2 linked regions of the Homo sapiens genome follow. The protein of the gene in region 2 purifies or fractionates together with the protein of the main gene of each other region. This does not show direct contact. Each region holds a gene or a part of one and is shown on either strand. Other genes may lie near its edges.

Evidence for each region.
Region 1: the proteins of CIB2 (region 2) and POLE purify together in Homo sapiens (co-immunoprecipitation; 2 studies listed by BioGRID and IntAct, with this or other methods). This does not show direct contact.

The regions. Positions count from the first base shown.
Region 1 is NC_000012.12:132,669,137-132,677,342, forward strand, and holds part of POLE (DNA polymerase epsilon catalytic subunit A), read right to left. Parts: intron 7,518-8,206; coding exon 7,410-7,517; intron 7,069-7,409; coding exon 6,958-7,068; intron 6,685-6,957; coding exon 6,599-6,684; intron 6,382-6,598; coding exon 6,262-6,381; intron 4,572-6,261; coding exon 4,439-4,571; intron 4,142-4,438; coding exon 4,028-4,141; intron 3,704-4,027; coding exon 3,491-3,703; intron 3,187-3,490; coding exon 3,079-3,186; intron 1-3,078. UniProt on the Homo sapiens protein: Catalytic component of the DNA polymerase epsilon complex. Participates in chromosomal DNA replication.
Region 2 is NC_000015.10:78,119,642-78,129,635, forward strand, and holds part of CIB2 (calcium and integrin-binding family member 2), read right to left. Parts: intron 4,099-9,994; coding exon 4,064-4,098; intron 1,021-4,063; exon of another isoform or gene 927-1,020; intron 1-926. UniProt on the Homo sapiens protein: Calcium- and integrin-binding protein that plays a role in intracellular calcium homeostasis. Acts as an auxiliary subunit of the sensory mechanoelectrical transduction (MET) channel in hair cells.

The sequences.
Region 1 (8,206 bases), on a different chromosome or scaffold from region 2:
AATTACTTGAACACTAAACTCTCCTTAGTATTAAAAAAAATCCTTAGGCCAGGTGCAGTGGTTCATGCTTGTAATCCTAGCACTTTCGGAGACCGAGGCCAGAGGATCACTTGAGCCCAGGAGTTCGAGACCAGCCTGAGCAACACAGTGGGACCCCCGTCTCTATAAAAAATAAAAAATTAGCCGTGTGTGGCGGTGGCACCTGTAGTCCCAGCTACTCGGAACGCTGGGGTGGAAGAATCGCTTGAGCCCGTGAGGTCAAGGCTGTAGTGAGCCCAGATTGCACCACTGCACTCCAGCCTGGGCAACAGAGCCAGATCCTGTTTCAGAAAAAAAAAAAGAAAAAGAAAAATCCTTAAAACCCTCCAAAGTAGTAAAAATAGAAAACACACCTAAAATTTTAAGAAAAAAGTGATTACAAGGAATAACATCTATTCCATAGAACAGGAAATACCACAACAGTAACACCTATTGTTTCTACTTGAATTACAGATAAACGAATCAGCCGGGGAAGAGCCTCCACTGCACCCTTCTCTGCCCAGTAACGGCGTGTTCTGAAAGGCTGTCCAGTCAAGAAGGGGAGGATGGGCTGGGACAAGTGAATGGCCAAGTTTCCATGGTGGGGACACCACCTGGACATGCCCCACGTGGCTGTGAGCCCCTGCTGACATCCCCCCAGCCACCCTCCGCCCAACAGGTGACCCTTCAGGGACACAAAGGCGATCCTGGGCTTCCCTTTCAAGGGCACTTGCGAGGACTTAGGAATCGCTAACAGGACAATGTCATCTACAGAGCTCCCTTCCTCACTCACCAGGGAGCCTGGCGTCCTCACATCTACAGAGCTCTCTTCCTCACTCACCAGGGAGCCTGGCATCCTCACATCTACCACACCTCCAGCCTCACTCTACCTGCCCATCTCACTGTTTCTTAAAGACTTTAAATATCTGCTTCTAGGTCGGGCGCGGTGGCTCACGCCTGTAATCCCAGCACTTTGGGAGGCCAAGCGGGCAGATCAGCTGAGGTCGGGAGTTCGAGACCAGCCTGGCCAACATGGAGAAACCCTGTCTCTACTAAAAATACAAAAAAAAAATTACCCAGGCGTGGTGGCAAGCGCCTGTTATCCCAGCTACTCAGGAGGCTGAGGCAGGAGAATCTCTTGAACCCAGGAGGCAGAGGTTGTGGTGAGCCGAGATCATGCCATTGCACTCCAGCCTGGGCAACAAGAGTGAAACTCTGTCTCAGATTCTGAGACGTCTCGCCACCACGCCTGGGTAATTTTTTTTTGTATTTTTAGTAGAGACGGGGTTTCTCCATGTTGGCCAGGCTGGTCTCAAACTCCTGACCTCAGGTGATCCACCCGCCTCAGCCTCCCAAAATGCTGGGATTCCAGGCTGCCCAGGCTGGAGTGTAGTGGAGCGATCTCGGCTCACTGCAAGCTCCGCCTCCCGGGTTCTTGCTATTCTCCTGCCTCAGCCTCCCGAGTAGCTGGGACTACAGGTGCCCGCCACCACGCCCGGCTAATTTTTTTATATTTTTTTAGTAGAGACGGGGTTTCACCGTGTTAGCCAGGATGGTCTCAATCTCCTGACCTCGTGATCCACCTCGGCCTCCCAAAGTGCTGGAATTACAGGCGTGAGCCACCGTGCCCGGCCATGGCCGACATTCTTTAACTCCTATTTGTTATTCAGACAAGGCTCTCTTCCTGATCGGTTCATAAGAGTTCCCTGAAGTATAATAATGGATGTGGCTGACAATAGCCAAACAGTGCTTCACAGCTTGCCAAGAGTGTACACATATTCTTGTTTAAATTTTGACTAGTGAATCTATTACAAGATGTTTCTTGAGGGCAGGCACAGTGGCTCACACCTGTAATCCCAGCACTTTGGGAGGCTGAGGTGGGCAGATCACTTACAGTCAGGAGTTCGAAAGCAGCCTGGCCAACGTGGTGAAACCTCATCTCTACTAAAAATACAAAAATTGGCCAGGCATGGTGGTGGGCACCTGTAATCCCAGCTACTCAGGAGGCTGAGACAGGAGAATCGCTTGAACCCAGGAGGCAAAGGTTGCAGTAAGCCGAGATCATGCCATTGCACTCCAGTGTGGGTGACAGAGCAAGACTCCGTCTCAAAAAAAAAAAAAAAAAAAAAAAAAGTTTCTTGGCATCAATGTGAAAACTGTTAAAAACTCTAAACCAGCAACCTCACTGAACATGATGTAGTGCTGCACAGTGCCTGACATAAAGACCTGAGATAGGCCAGGCGCGGTGCCTCACACCTGTAATCCCAGCACTTTGGGAGGCCAAGGCAGGCGGATCACAAGGTCAGGAGTTCAAGATCAGACTGGACAACATGGTGAAACCCTGTCTCTACTAAAAATACAAAAACTAGCCAGGTGTGGTGGCGGATGCCTGTAATCCCAGCTACTGGGGAGCCTGAGGCAGGAGAATTGCTTGAACCCGGGAGGCAGAGGTTGCAGTGAGCCAAACTCATGCCATTGCACTCCAGCCCAGGCCAACAACAGCGAGACTCCATCTCAAAAAGGGAAAAAAAAAAAAAAAAAAAAAAAAGACCTGAGATGTGCCATGTCCTGAGGAACAGGGATCAGAGAAGAACTGGTGTCTCCCTCTCCAGTCACATAACACACTTTGTAAGTGTGCTTTCTAACCATTATGTAAACAGATTTTACAGTCACTAATCCTGTCATTTGTAGGAATTTACTGTCATTTTTAAGTCTCAACAACAAAAAGTAAATAAAATTTAAAACCTCCAATGGCTCCCCAGTGCCTATAAAATAAAGTCCTAATGCTTTAAAACAGGACACGGGATACATCCCACCAGGACCCACCTTCCATGTTACTGCATTTCAGGAGCAGCTCACACCCCACCTCTCATGAAGCCCTCCGACCTTGTGACAGCATCACACGTCACAACCATGACTGCCCTGTCCCACCAGAGACCCTGTGTCATCCGTCCACAGCACCACACGCAGCAGGTGCACAATAAACGTGCTGCTGAAAGACGTGGTCTGTGAAGAAGGCGCCAAACACAGACTGGCTCTTCCTGCCTCCCTGATGGTTACCTCTTCAAAGTTGGTGACTTGCTCCACAGGCACTTTCTCCTCTTCCTCAAGGGCGTGGCGCAAGGTCTTCTCAACCCGCTGCAGCAGGAAGTCAAAGGCGGCAGGATTCTAGCACAACAGTGAGACGACGGGGTCAGAGGGGAAACACACCCACACTAGCCTGCCTCAGGTTTGACGCTGTGGCTGCACGTGGCAGGTTGTGCCCGAGAAAGCTCCGGAAGGACTCATGTGCACAATCTGCAGTGCACTGCCCTAAAGAAGCCCCCGGGGGGTGCTGGGCCAGAGAAGCCACACCCGGTGAGGGGCCGTGGGACAGGATGGGGAGAAGGGGCTTTATTTCAGCCCCTGCAGCTTCTGGGTCCTACCACAGCACAAGAGTGGGAAGAATCTGAATCCCAGGGAAGAAGCACACCATCCTAAACCGGCAAGGGATATCGCTGCGGAAAACCCCAGACTCGAGGGCCTCCACGTGGCCCCCGACGTAGGTCTCAGAGTCCAGCACGTGTCCGTCGTCCGTCAGCTTATTGAACTCCTGCTCTTGCTTGTTGGGGAAGATGATGTTGGCGTGGAAGGCCTGCACCATCAGCAAGGCCTCACACAGAGTGCCAGAGCCCTTCCGCAGCACCTGCAAGAGAAACCAAGGCTTCCAGCCAAAAGCAACACCAAAGGCCCTGACTTGCAGGCAAAGTCCAGGAACCTAAGCTGAACTTCAGTGTGAAAGGAGAGAAAACCTCGTGGTAAATGGCTGCAAATTCTGCCTCCTGTGGTTTCTTCCTCACACCAGGGCCAGAGAATTCCCAAAGGACATCCCTGACGTCACACACCAGAATTCTACTGCCGCCTCTGGTGCCAGCACTCCTGGGACATCCACCTCCATTCAGCTCCAGTGCATTTGGAATGGGGCAAGGGCTGAGGAGGCCAGGGTGCCGACAGGACAGATAATGCTCACCTCGTCGGGCTCCATGGGAATAATGGTGCACAGAGCAAAGATGAATGGGTGGACGTACTTCATGTACAGGTAGTAAGTGGCGACAGCATCTGACACAGAATACGTGGCCAGAGTCTGAGGAGAGAACGCCAGAGAGCAGGGCCATCAAAAATCAAGAGCCCAGGGTCAAGTGTGAAGCACAGAAAGCAAAGCCTGGCCTGACCAGCCTGCCGCACACACAGTAAGGAGACCGGCACAGGACAAAACACGTGTGTCCCGGAGACACAGCCTGCTGGGTGGAGCGGGCTGGCATACATGCGTGCACACGGCAGCAGGGGGAGCCGGGATGTGGCTCACATGCCTGGGGCTGCTCCGTGGCCATCTGGATGCGTGCACACGGCAGCAGGGGCAGCCGGGATGTGGCTTACGTGCCTGGGGCTGCTCCGTGGCCATCCGGCACATGTCCTCCGGGTCTAGCTCCACGGGATCATAGCCTAGCTTGGCCTTGGCGGCCGCCTTGAGATTATGACTGCCCACAGGAAGGTAACTGTCCCTCTTCACCCACCTGGAAGGAGAATGAGAACAGAAGCCAGGATGATTCTAACATGCAGCCCGGGAACCCCTGAGAACTGGCAAAACTGGGCACCACACAGACAGATGCAAGTTCCTAACAGGCACCCAGGAGCCTCACACCAAGGCCCCACATGGTGTAGACACCTTGTGAAAACCCTTCATCAGGATCTAGTTAATCTCACAGACCTATCCACAACACAAGGAAGCACCAGGACTGGTCCTTCCGGCCCTCGCCTTCCTCCCATCCTCAGCAGAGTTTGTGGCCTCTCCGACGGGCGCCCCACCTCCTTGGGCCTCTCCCCAGACCTCAGGTCTGCACCCCTGGGGCCTAGTTCTATCAACCACACTGATCTTCTCTCCTCACACTGTCCCTTCAGCACGGAAACACTCAAGCCCACCCTCCTTTAATAGAAGGCAAGATGTGATCAGATGCCAAGAAGAATAAAAATTTAAAAAATAAATAAAAAATAAAAATTAAGAAAAGAAGGCCCCCCACACTCTACCCGGAACCTGTCTCTACCTCCTCCCTACAGACGCATTCCCTGGAGCAGCTGTCCAGGGGTCATGTCCGGTCTCCACCCCCCGCAGCCTCCACCCTGTGGCCTTCTTCTCTCACTTTACCTCTTGCCTTCAGTTCATCCACTACCCCAGCTTTCACCAAGACCCACCCGCAACCCAGTGAGTCCCAATCTACAGTGCGAGCCCAAACCAAGCCTCATGGTGGTCTTCAGGGCCCCCATATGGGTGGGGCTTCCAGGCTAGCATATCGGTAGCAGGGTCACCTCCTGCCTCAAGCCCCTTCTCTACCCATTCCCTGTCTCCACGGATGGCACAAAAACCCCAGGTGCCAACCCCTCCCTAAGAACCAGCATCCCTGGGCCTCCCCCTGCCCCACATGACAGATCCTGAATCCTCACAACCCTCACTCCCTGCCTTGGATCAGGACTGTCACACCGTCACACGCTAAACCGGCCCCAGCCTCCTGGCCTCCCTCTCCAAGCCAAGTGCTGAGCATCAGAGCTAAACAGAAACGCATTCAGGCTGCAAGCACCCCAGTGGCACTGTGCAGAATACAGAGGCCGTGGAGGCCCCTCCATTCCCTTCCTTCCCTCCCTCCCTTCCCTTCCTTCCCTCCCTCCCTTCCCTTCCTTCCCTTCCCTCCTTTCCTCCCTCCCTTCCCTTCCTTCCCTTCCAGCCTCCTTCTGTTGGCATTTCCACATCCACCTGTCTTCCCAACCAGTCATGTCAGAGCCCCCGAACGCCGTGACTCTCCGAAGCTCTGAGCTGCCTCCCACCCTAGCTCATATGGAATCTGTGGTTGTCCCGTGAGGCTTGTCCTGTGAGGCAGCCGGGCTGCCACATCCCAACCTTGCCTGGGCAGAGCAGCTCCATGAGGTCCTAGGTCTGGGACCTGTCAGCTGAGTGCGTCTTTCCAGCGGCTTCCCCACCCCAGAGGCTGATGCTCAATGTGCCTGGTCACTGATGAATTGTCAGTCAACAGTCAAAGACAGCACATCCCGGGCCCTGGCAGGGTTGCAGCTGCCATACTCTTGGGTGACCTGAAACGGCCTCTCGGAGGCCACCCTCCTCCCATGAGATGTGGTGACAGCACAGTCTGCAAGAGGCCTTCAGATCTCGCTCACGGACAGCAGTGAGGAGCCATGCTGCTCTGTGGCCCCTACCTGAGGCAGTCCATGTGGATGCACTGGGGCGCCTTGTACTCCCCCTGGCTGTCCTTCTGGAAGCCTATCTCCTGCTGCATGCTCAGACCGTGGACTGCTGCCCGGGCCTCCACAAATGGCCTGGGTTGGAAAGAGGACAGACAAGCAAGTGGGCAGGTCAGGCTCTAATGCCCCTTTCTCCATTCCTCCCTCAGACCCAGGGAGGAACCCAGACACGGGAGGTGCAGAGTGAACCCAGGAGCCACCTCCTAAGTCGACATGGGAAGCGCCCCTGCACCACGCAACGCCCTCCCTCTCAAATGCTGCCCAGTTACTCATAGAGAAGACACAGACTCACCAGTCAAAAAAGTCCCCGTTGTAGGTGACCATGATGGTGGGTTTGGTCTCCTGGACGTGTTCAAACCACCTTTGGATCAGATGAGCCTGAACCCAAGTCACAGCAGTCAGAGGTCTGCTCTTTCTCTTCTTCAAGCTATTCCAAATTCCTCTCCCAAAGTTCAGAAGCAGCAGCCTCATGTTGGCCCTTATTCCTGCCCCGCCCCTCCGCCCGTCTCTGGCAGAAAAGACGGTCATACCCTGAGAACAAAGCTCATGGAGCTGCAATTCTGATCTGACGGAATGCCTGAGGCCTTGGAAAGATCCACATGTCCGTTCTTCCCACAATACCGGGTAGTTTCCCAAGTGATACCTCCTTACCTCATCGGGTTCATTGAAGACACAAAAGGGGCCTTCATATTCTGGCTTGGGGGTGAACTCAAAATCTTCAATATCTTCTGAAACAATCTCCCTGTTGGTGATGAGGTAGCCCTAGCCAAGTTCATTAGCAATCAGCACAAGTCAGAGGCTGCAAAGCCAAGAAATGGCGTTCCCACCCTGCCCACACACTCTGCCTAGAGATTCTCACTACAAAGAAGTCCACAGCAATGTGAAAGTGCTTTAAGCTTCCTGAGAAGAGACGCTCTGTGTGTGGATTCCCACTCGAAAGGGGAGGGTACAGCTGGAGGTCGGAACGGCTTGGTTGCTCCCATTCCTGGACTAACTCATTATTCACTCAACAAATACTAACAGTGGGGCAGATGCTGCTGTAGTATGGGGACCAGACAAGGTCCCCATCCCAGGAGCTTACTTCCCAGAAGCCACCTGCTCACCTGGCCATCGATCATGTAGGAAATCATCATAATCTGGTCTGTCTCAGCATCAGGAAACTTGAGGGGCAGTTTGGTCGTCTCAATGTCAAATGCCAAAACCACAGGGTCCTGTGGGGACAAAATAAGCATAAAGCCAAGCTCTAAACTCCCCATTAGGCCTCCCTGAACACCCACCCCCAGCCTGCTCTACCTCCCTCTGGTTGTTAAAAGAGTCAAAAGGCTCTAGAGCTGGGAGAAGGACCCTAAGACTAACCAACCTACATCAAGAGTATCACGACTCCCTATGGTATGAAAACTGACATACCTAAGAGAGCAGCTGATCACAGGACAAGCCTAAAATCACAGAACTTTAGGAGAAAAACTCTTCAAAAGACATCACCTCATTCTGGTGGTTATGACAACTCTGAAAGGTAACTGTGGCACAGAGATGATATCTTCATTTCGGAAAAGAGAAAACTGAATACAAAGACTTTCCCAACACCACAAAGTCATGTTTGAACCAAGGCCTTCTAGTTACAAATCCATTTTTCACCATGTCCCTTCACTATCAACTACCCAAACGGAAGTCCCAGCTTTCCCTCGAGTGTCCAAATCCTGCCTAGCTCAAACACTGATGTCATACAGTGATATACAACAAAAAAGGAAATGATACTGTCAGAAACTGATGAAAAATTCTAACTCCATATTTCCTTTAATAAAGTATTTGGGGGAAAAGCAGCAAACATATCTTTGAGTCAGATTCACTCTCCAGCACTGAAGAATATTCTCTCCAGAAAACTGGAAATTTTAGGATGAAG
Region 2 (9,994 bases):
CTGCAACCTCCGCCTCCTGGGTCCCGGTTCAAGCAATTCTCCTGCCTCAGCCTCCTGAGTAGCTGGGACTACAGGAACACACCACCATGCCCAGCTAATTTTTGTATTTTCAGTAGAGTTGGGGTTTCACCATGTTGGCCAGGCTGGTCTTGAACTCCTGACCTCATGATCCACCCGCCTCAGCCTCCCAAAGTGCTGAGATTAAAGGAGTGAGCCACTGCGCCTGGCCAATTTTAAGCATATTACAAAACAATACCATCTGCCTTTTTTTTTTTTTGAGTCAGAGTCTTGCTCTGTTGCCCAGGCTGGTGTGCAGTGGTGCAATCTCAACTCACTGCGGTCTCAACCTCCTGGGCTCCAGCACTTCTCCCACCTCAGCCTCCCAAGGAGCTGGGACTACAGGCACACACCACCAGACCTGGCTAATTTCTGTATTTTTTTTTTAGAGACAGGGGTCTCACCATGTTGGCCAGACTGGTCACAAACCCCTGAGTTCATGTAATCCACCGGCCTCGGCCTCTCAAAGTGCTAGGATTACAGGTGTGAGCCAACGTACCCGACCACAATCTGACTTTTTGATAAACACATACAAAAGAAAAACACTGGCATAATATATACCAAAAGATTAACAGCCTTATTTCTGGGTCATAGGCTTACAGGTAATTTTTTTTGTCTTCTCTTGACTGGCTTCATTTTCTAATTTTTCTACAATCATTATGTATATGTGTAGTAAGTAATTAAAATAGGTTACACAAAGTTTTTAAAAGGTTGAGAAAATAAACAATAAAATAACAAGTAGGCAAATACCTTGGAGTGCTGGCTGGGTGGGCCTCTCTGTGTACCAAGGGGACAAGGACTACTGTCCCGCTGATTAAAGAGCACAGCCTAATTAGGGCACAAGGGAAGTTGAAGTGCTAAGCTCTTACCTATAAAAAGCAAGGTGACTGAATAGGGTGGGCTGCCCACTCGGCCTCAATGTGGGAATGCAGGAGCTGTGTCCTGGGGAGCAATCGGATCTACCTGGGTGGGGGCAGGGCAGAGGGAAGGAGAATTGGAGGCGGGCTATCTGTGACTCGGTATCACTGCCCCAAAGTTGCCACAGAGCTGGGCCCCAACCTGCAAAGAAAAACCTCCTGCTCAAGTTTCCTCCTAGCCATCTGGTCAGTACGCAGGGAGCAGCTTACCAAGAAAACCATCCTGGTGGGGGTGGGGAGTAGCATCCCTGAAAGGCCCTTGGGAGCAGGGAAGATGAGCATGGCCTGGGGCTGGATAGCCTGGCTCTGCAGCTGACTTTGCCCTCTCTGGGCTCCAGGCCTCAGTTTTGTCACCCGGACCTGAGATGTGAACAGTGGAGAGGGCTCTCCTGGAGGGGCAGTCAGTCATGCTGGCCTCTCCACAGAGAAGGCTGGAGAAAAGCGAAGGGGGGTGAAACTGGAATTGAGCCATCATGGCCATGCCTGTTCCCTCTAGGGACAGGCAATCCCGAATCTGTCTTGTCTTAACTACCCTTCCCTGAGGGTGGACAGGTGGGCAGCAAACTCCAGGTAGCTCTTTTCATGTTTAATAACACCATCACCCAGCCCTCCCAGACACAGGGGCCTGTGAGAAAACAGCTCCTGCAAGCAATGTCATCCCCATGCTGCAGACGGGGCCTCAGGCTTGGGTTTTGCTCTGGTGTTGAATTACAGAGCCTAGGGTCCTGATGCGTGCAGAGGGGTGCAGGCCAGGGCTGTGGGGAGCCAGGACGCCTCTCCTCAAGCCCTCTCACCTGCCTGGAGCCCCTCATTTTCCAAGGGGCCAGGGATACCCCTGATATGGTTTGGCTGTGTCCCTACCCAAATCTCATCTTGAATTGTAGTTCCCATAATCCCTACGTGTCATGGGAGGGACCTGGTGGGAGGTAATTGAATCATGGGGGCAGTTACCCCGAGGCTGTTCTCATGATAGTGAGTTCTCACGAGATCTGATGGTTTTATAAGGGGCTTCTCCCCCTTTGCCCAGCACTTCTCTTTCCTGCCGCCATGTGAGGAAGGATGTGTTTGCCTCCCCTTCTGCCATGATTGTAAGTTTCCTGAGGCCTCCCCAGCCATGTGGAGCCATGAATCAATTAAACCTCTTTCCTTTATAAATTACCCAGTCTCAGGCAGTTCTTTATAGCAGCATGAGAATGGACTAAAACAACCACCAAAGGCCCATCATATTGGATCGGATTCCCGGACTGGCCTTCAAGCTCCTCTCTCCTCTTCCCCACACAGGCAATCTTGCTGCTGTCAATGAGACCACGGGAGGATGGGGGTGGGAGTGGGAGCAGGAGAAGCTGGCCTGTGTCTCACCTCTGCTGCTCCCCAGCCTGGAATGTTCTCCCTCAGCCAATCCTACCTGTCTTTCACCCACACACTCTTCATATGGTCACTGGTGGCTAACAGGTGCCATGCTCCCTGTTAGTCCTGCCTGATCACAAGTCTGGTGGGGAGCTGGGCCCCTGGGTCCAGGAACCCAAGGAGCCCCTAACAGGCTGTTAGAGCAGCTGGGATAGCACTAGGGTGGCAGGGTGTTGGGGGTGCTTATAAAGGAGATGATTCTGGAGTTGGGTCTGGAAGGATGCATAGCAATGCTGTGGGCAGAGGAGAGGCGAAGGACACTCCAGGGAGTGGAGATAGCCAGTGCAAAGGCCGAGGCAAGGGGCTTTTGTTGCCAGAATGAAAATGGCCGTGGGCCTCAGAAGACAGGCAGCTTGGGCTTGGCATCTACAAAGGTAGGGAACCCGAAGCTCCCTGTGAGGCTCAAATGAGGCTCCATGCCAAGAACTCTGAAAGGTAAAAGGTGCCACAAGAATGCCAGGGGTGACAGCTTTGTTATTCCAATACCGAGAGCCATCCTGTCGAAATGGGGACCTCACCCCTGACATCTCTCAAGCTACAGGGCAAATCCCACTTATCAAACACTATACCCCAGTGTTGCTGCCTCTCGGCAATGCTATGAGGGTAGGTTTCACTATCCCTATTATACAGAAGAAAACTGAGGCTCAGGGAAGGTCAAATGGTTGCCCAAGGCCACAGATGCCAGGTCTACTGATGCCAGGCCTGGAGGCTTTGCCCCTTGCTCAGACTCTCTAAGGTGGTGGAAGTGGGGTATCCCCTGCCCATGCAGGTGACAGGTTGGAATAGCAGCCTGGGTAGAGAGGAAAGCCGAGAGGCACTGCCTGAATGAGCAGAATGGTTAGGGCAGTGACAAGCTGCAGCACAGCTCTCTTGGGAAGCTGCAATGGGCTCTGGTCCCAGCCTGACCATCGATCTCCAGGGCAAGTGATCCTGGGACTTTGCTGGCTTTTAGTGCCACCCAGGCAGAGGGGCCTAGTGAGGCCCGTGGGGCAGTTTTCTTGGTATTCAGTGATTCCTGCTCACCCACTGGTCCTGGGGTTCTGAGGCTGCCGATCCCCTTTATCTTTCCCATCCAGGTCCACCCCCACCCCCATCAACACCAAGGAGAAGGGCTGTCCTGGGAAGAAGCAGAGCCCTGATGAATAGCTCAGGGGTGGTGGCCATGCCCTCAACTTTTAGACGTCCTAGGAGTGGAAGAACATCAAAGCTAGAGCCAAAGGGCCCTTAGGGACCCCTGGTCTAACAGACAGGGACTCCCTGCTATACCAGGACCCAGGATGCAGTGAAATAGCAAGGGACCTGGAGTCAGAGGCTGGGTCTTGAGTCCCTGGCTCTGTGACTTTAGCCAAGTTGCTAAGCTCCATCTGTCAAATGGGGATAAATGGATTCTCTTGTTACAAGGTCACAATGAGGATTAAATAAGAATGTGCCGGAAACTACCCACCTGAAAGCTCATAGTAAGTAGATGTTCATTCCCCAGCAGGAGGATCTGGGCCCTGGGAGGAGTGGGAAGCTCTAACTCCATCCTAGCCCAGTGGCCGAGTGGGGACCTGAATGTGGCTCCTGATACATGCTGATGCTCTGCCTCAGCCCCAGGAGCACAGCCAGCCCATGTGGGGTGCCCCAGCCTCACCCCGGCCCCAGTCCCAGTCCCAACAGGGTGAACGAGAAGCCACACTTACTTGAGGATGTCCTTCTTATTGAAGAAGGTGCAGTCCTGTTGAGGGAAAACACACAACACACAGTCAGTGTGCGGCTCCCAGACTTTCTTCCTCAGAGGCCTCGATGCCACAGGGCTCACAGGGGATAGCTCCGGACTGGGGACAGAAGAGTCACTACTATCCCTTTCCACCTTGCCCTCACCCACTGGGGACAGCTGGCTCTAGTAGGTATAGAAAATGCCTCCCAAAACCTTTATCCATCCTGGGCTAGGCCTAAGGAGCTTAGTGCATGGTGGGGGGCTGTAGCATGCTTTAGGGTACACATGTAGGAGGAAGATGAATGCTCACAGGTATGCGTGGCTGATTTGAGTGCCAGTGGGATACACTGGGGGATGACAGGGAGGTGGCTGGGAGACAACTCCGAATGAGGACCCACAGGGCCACCTCGTGTAGCTGCATGGGGTGCCATCCTCACTGTAGCCCTGAGCATGGTGCTAGGGGGGTTGTGCAGTCCCAGGCTCAGAGACTGAGAGTTCCAGGCACATAGACTGGGGAAGCATCAGTATATACTTGGTGTCTGAAGCCAGAAAGGGATGAGGTCACCCAGAGAAGGGAGTGAAGAGGCCAGGGAGATATGGGAGGGAGAAACGTGGGCAGGGGGAACCAGGTAGCATCTGGGGTAGAGGTGAGGGTAGGGGCTGCTGGGGATCCCCAGGTAAGCATTACTCCAGGTGGGGGGCAGCACTTGGCTCCTAGGGCCATCCAGATGACAAACTCATCTCGGAGGGGTCCTGTCTTTGTTTAGATGAACTGCCTCTATCCACAGCTTGGCCTGCCCAAGGTGAGTATCAACCACTGGGAGTCAGTGACAATGGCCACTATGCCAGCCCTTGGTGAAAAGTATAGAGGTGAAGAGGACCCAGCACTTTGTAAAATGCCCAACCGTAAAGGGCTTTTGTGCACCTCCCCTGCTGTTTAGCTCCTCCGCCTTTGTCCACTGTTACAGCATGAAGCAAGAAGGCCTCCTAGGTCTGCAGAGCCCAGAGCCCATAGGGCCTCCTGGGGCCATAAGCTGACCAGAGCCAGCTCTGATGAGGAGTGAATGGCTGAAACTCAGGCCTGCAAACAGCCAGGCTTGCCCTGAATGAGACCTGAAGCCGCTGGACATCAGGGCAATTGGATTGCGTGTTAAGAGGCCCAAAGAGAGGACGCCTGCAGGATGCACACAACATCTGGGGTTTCCACTGGGTGCCTTCGGGAGAGCTGAAAAGGGGAGAGCTGGTGGGAATTTCCAGGCCCCATTTGGCCCAACAAGTCTGTCCTTCTAAGCTGCTGCTCCCTGGGAGTTAGACTAAGGATCCATGCTGGCTTCTTGGAAACACGAGGGGTTCTCCTGGGGGTCTCAGCTTTGCTTTTGACAGTGGTTCCTCTGTAGGAGCCCAGAAAGGCTCAGGCTGGGGAAGCAGTGCCCCCTGCTCCTCACCCAACACAGACAGAAAACTCCCTACTTAGCAGGCCTCAGGCACAGACAGGCTGGAGACACAGTGGGCTGATTTATCAGCAAACTCCAGAAACATGGTGCAGAATGTGGACTTCCCTCCACCCCAGGGCCGTTTCCATGGTCTAAGGTGCCCAGTGAGAAGGGCCAGGGCTCTCCCACCTAGCCTGGAGGAGGCAGTCAGCAGAACTGGAAATGGGGAGAGGTCCCAACTCCTGCTCTCTTCCCCCCGATCTGTCCTCCTTCCCCTCCCCTCTTCTCTCTCCTATCCCATGTGTTGGAAAGGAACTATCCAGGTCCTGATTCAAGGGTTCTCCTGACAAAAGATGCAAACACTTCCCCTATAACCCTGCTCCCTGTCACAATTACTTACACCTCCCTACATCAATGGTCCTCACGCTGTGGCTCCTGGACCAGCAGCATCAGCCTCACTGGGAACTTGGTGAAAATGTAGATTCTTAGGCTCCACTCCAGATCTCTTGAATCAGAAACTCTGTGGGTGGGGTCCAGGGATCTGCACTTTAAAAAACCCTCCCAATGATGCTGATGCATGTTGAAGTGTGAGGAAGTCTGCTCTAGAGCAGAATCACTTGGGGGACTGTTTAGGATACCTGTGTCCCCCATCCCTCAGCAGACCCCAGACAAATTGTAGAGAAATCCCCAAGGATGGATCCAGGCATTGGCTGTTTTCAAAGCCACTCAGGTGGTCCCAACGTGCAACCCAGGCTGAAAACCACATCACAACCAGTACATGATGTACCATGCACCTGGCACCTGGGGCTCTAAATATCCAATTTTTCTTAATCCTTATCATTAGCCAATGGGGGTGGGCATTATCTCTCTATCTTAAAGATGGGCAACTTGAGACTCAGCAAAGTTGAGTAGCTTGCCTTAAGTTGCACACACAGCCCAGGAGGGCTGGGAATGGAACTTAGGCCTCTGTGCTTCCCTTTCCCCTGCCCCCCCCCCTTTTTTTTTTGAGACGGAGTCTTGCTCTGTCACCCAGGCTGGAGTACAGTGGCATGATCTCAGCTCACTGCAACCTCCGCCTCCTGGGTTCAAGTGATTCTCCTGTCTCAGCCTTCCAAGTAGCTGGGATTACAGGCATGCGCCACCATGCCTGGCTAATTTTTGTATTCTTAGTATAGAGATGGGGTTTCACCATATTGGTCAGGCTGGTCTCGAACTCCTGACCTCAGGTGTTCACCCAACTAGGCTTCCCAAAGTGCCGGGATTATAGGCATGAGCTACCACGCATAGCCTTCTTTTTTTCTTTTTAATGGGAGTAGACCTTGGGGCCCTCACTGGCAAGGAAGCAGAGGCAAGAAAAGATCCTCTGTGCTTCTTGGCCACTGCCTATGACTACAAACAGAGCCATGACCACTGTACACCAGCCACTCCATGTCCTGCGTCTGCTGTGTATTCCTATACTTATACACAGCAGGTGCTTAATACAGGCTTGTGGGATGAGTGACCAGACTTTTCCATCTATGCCTTCCACAGCAGTTACGTTATTTCAGTGGCTGCAGAGTCCCTGCCTAGTCTTAATCTTTCTTCTCTTTCTGAACATTTAGTAACACCTATTTCTTGGTTTTAACATCACTGACAAAACTGCCATGAACCTGCTCATCAACTGATGTTTCACTTTTTCTTCTGTTCACTTGTTTCCCTGGGACTCACCCCAAGGAGGCAGTGCACAGGTAGTGAATATGGCAGGTGTTCTTAAAAGCTTCTCAGGGCTCAGGGTGGCCTAGAAGTGTGGCAGGGGAAAAGGTTTGGTAGTCAGGGTCAAATTCTAGTCTAGCTTCAGACCCTTAGGCAAGTCATTCTCCTTTCTGAGCCTCAGTTTCTGCATCTGTAAAGTGGAAATAGGCCTCTCTGAAGGGGACAGTGTGAAGAGCAAATGAGATAAGGTACAGGAAGTCTATAGGCCCCAGCTGATAGGAAAGAGTACAACAGCTCCATCCACCACCCAGGTCCCAAAGGCATCTCCCCAGAGTCGGTAGCTCTGCTGTCTTTCCCTTCTCTGGAGTCACCAAACACCCTGCCCACCACTACACCCTCAGCTGCCCTGGGAGCTACAGCCCTATGTCTGAAGGAACCCTTTCTTACACTTTTGGAGAGCAAGTGCCCCATCACTGCTTGGTTCCTGACAGTACACAGGGACACAGGGACAGGTCTTCCGGCAAAGGTCAGGTCTGGGTCATGAGGAGTGGAAGGGAGGGAAGGAGAGAGGGGGCCTAACCCAGGAGTGATGGGCTCTCAGAACATTGGCAGCAGAAAACAGGACAGGCTGGGCTTTTACAGTAGAAGCCCAGACGTTTTCCCAGTTAAGGCTTGAGTTCTGCCTCCGAGCCTATATTCACCCTATTCCCCAACTGGAGTGCCCTCTCCTCTTTCTCCAGGTTGTCCAAACCCTTTCTCCAAAGCTCAACTCAAGGGTGACTTGTTCCAGGTAACCCACCTGCCTCCCATCTCCTACATGCCTGGTCTGCCTGTGCCAGCTGTCAGGAGCCGAGCCATGGGCCCTCCCAGCTCTAATGGAAATGGCTCTCCATCCAGCTCTGCCAGCTCAGGCCTCAGCACTGCCCAGGGGACCATCACACGGCTCAAGGTCAGTCTCCAGTGATCTTAGTTGATCCCCACAAGAACCCTGTGACATGAGCACAGCTGGGTTAGTAGTTCCCATTTTAGAGGTGGAGACACTTAGGCCCAGAAGGGAACAGTGGCTTGCTAAGGCCCACAGCATCAACTACCCAGCTGACTTGAATCTAGGGCTTCAGAATCTTTGTCTAGAGTTCTTTGCTCTCCTGGAGCCACGCCTTAACAAATATTTGTTCATTCATTTGACAACATCCTCCAAACATCTCTTTTGTGCCTGGACAGAGGCCATACAAGAAGGAAGCTGGAGTGTAAACAGTGAGGTGCCCAGTATAAACCATTCTGTGGCCACACAAGGGACTGGGGATGTATATGTGTCAGGCTCCCTGAGTACTCCCAGCTGAATGGATTGGTGGAGAGAGAGTCAGGGAGCCCGTCCCAAAGAGGTGAGGCCTGGCCTGGACAGAAAGATGGGCCAGACTAGGTTAGCAAAGGAGCAGGGAGAGCAGCAGGAGAACAAGGGCCAGAGGTGAGGGAGGGCTTGGCTAGAAGCCCTTCAGTGTGCCTAAAACTTTGGGTGCAAAGGGAAAGGGAGTAAGAAATGAGGCTGGAGGCCCGGCGCGGTGGCTCACACCTGTAATCCCAACACTCTGGGAGGCCAAGGCAGGTGGATCACCTGAGGTCAGGAGTTTGAGACCAGCCTGGCCAACATGGCAAAACCCTGTTTTTACTAAAAATACAAAAATTAGATGGGCATGGTGGTGGGTGCCTGTAATCCCAGCTACTTGGGAGGCTGAGGCAGGGAAAATTGCTTGAACCTGGGAGGCGGAGCTGGGATGCGGAGGTTGCAGTGAGCCGAGATCACACCACTGCACTCCAGCCTGGGTGACAGGGCGAGCGAGACTCCGTCTCAAAAAAAAAAAAAAGGAAGAGAAAGAAAGAGATGAAGGAAGAGTGAGAGAACTAAGAGGGCGGGTGGCTGGAGGGGGATGGGCAGGAGGGGCGCAGGAGGGAGCAGTCAGACCTCCAGTTTGCAGGAGACTGAGCAGGCCTAGCCCAGGGCCCTGGCTGTCGTGATGGAGGAGGGGACCTCCAGGTGACCCACAAAAGAGGCTGAGTCACAGGCCTTGTTCTTAACTGAAAACATGGGCTGAGGGAGAGCAGAGAGTTGAAATGGCTGGAGGAGCAGCAGTGGGTGTTGGAGAGGCTGTGACCCCTGTTTTGGAGTTTGAGGGGTCTGGGGGATGGCCGTACAATGCAGAGGAGTGTTCTGGACAGAAGCTTAAATGTTGGGAATCACCGGCACCGGGAACCAAGAGGGTGCACCCTGCCCAGGAAAGGTTAGACTACCAGGCTGGGAGGTCCCAAGAAACCCTAGGTGTCACTTAGGGGAGAGGGTGCTGTAACTCAGGCTCACCCCCACTCAGCCCGGGCTGGCAATGGCTGGCTGGAGAGCCAGAGGGTAGGAGATGTGGGGCTCTCAGGTTTCACAGCTCTCATTTCTCCCACCCCGCCTGGCAGGGTCTAGCTAGGCTCTGGCAAAGAATCAGAACATAACACTGGGACTGGCTCCGATGAGTAACCCAATGCCAGGCTGGTTGGAGTGGGAACCTGGGCTCCCCACCCCCATGAAGCTACTCCTCACTTCTGAGCATGGCTTGCCTGCTTGCCCCTGCCCACTCCCAAGCCTTTATCCACGCTGTCCCCTCCACCTGGAATGCCTCCTCTGGGCCCCACTGGGCAAAACCCGACCTATCTTCCCAAGGCCTGCTCAAGTGCTGTATCGTTTCTGGACTTTGTCCCCCTTCCCTGCTGGCCTCCCACTGCCCACTAGTGCCCTTCCCTAGAACACA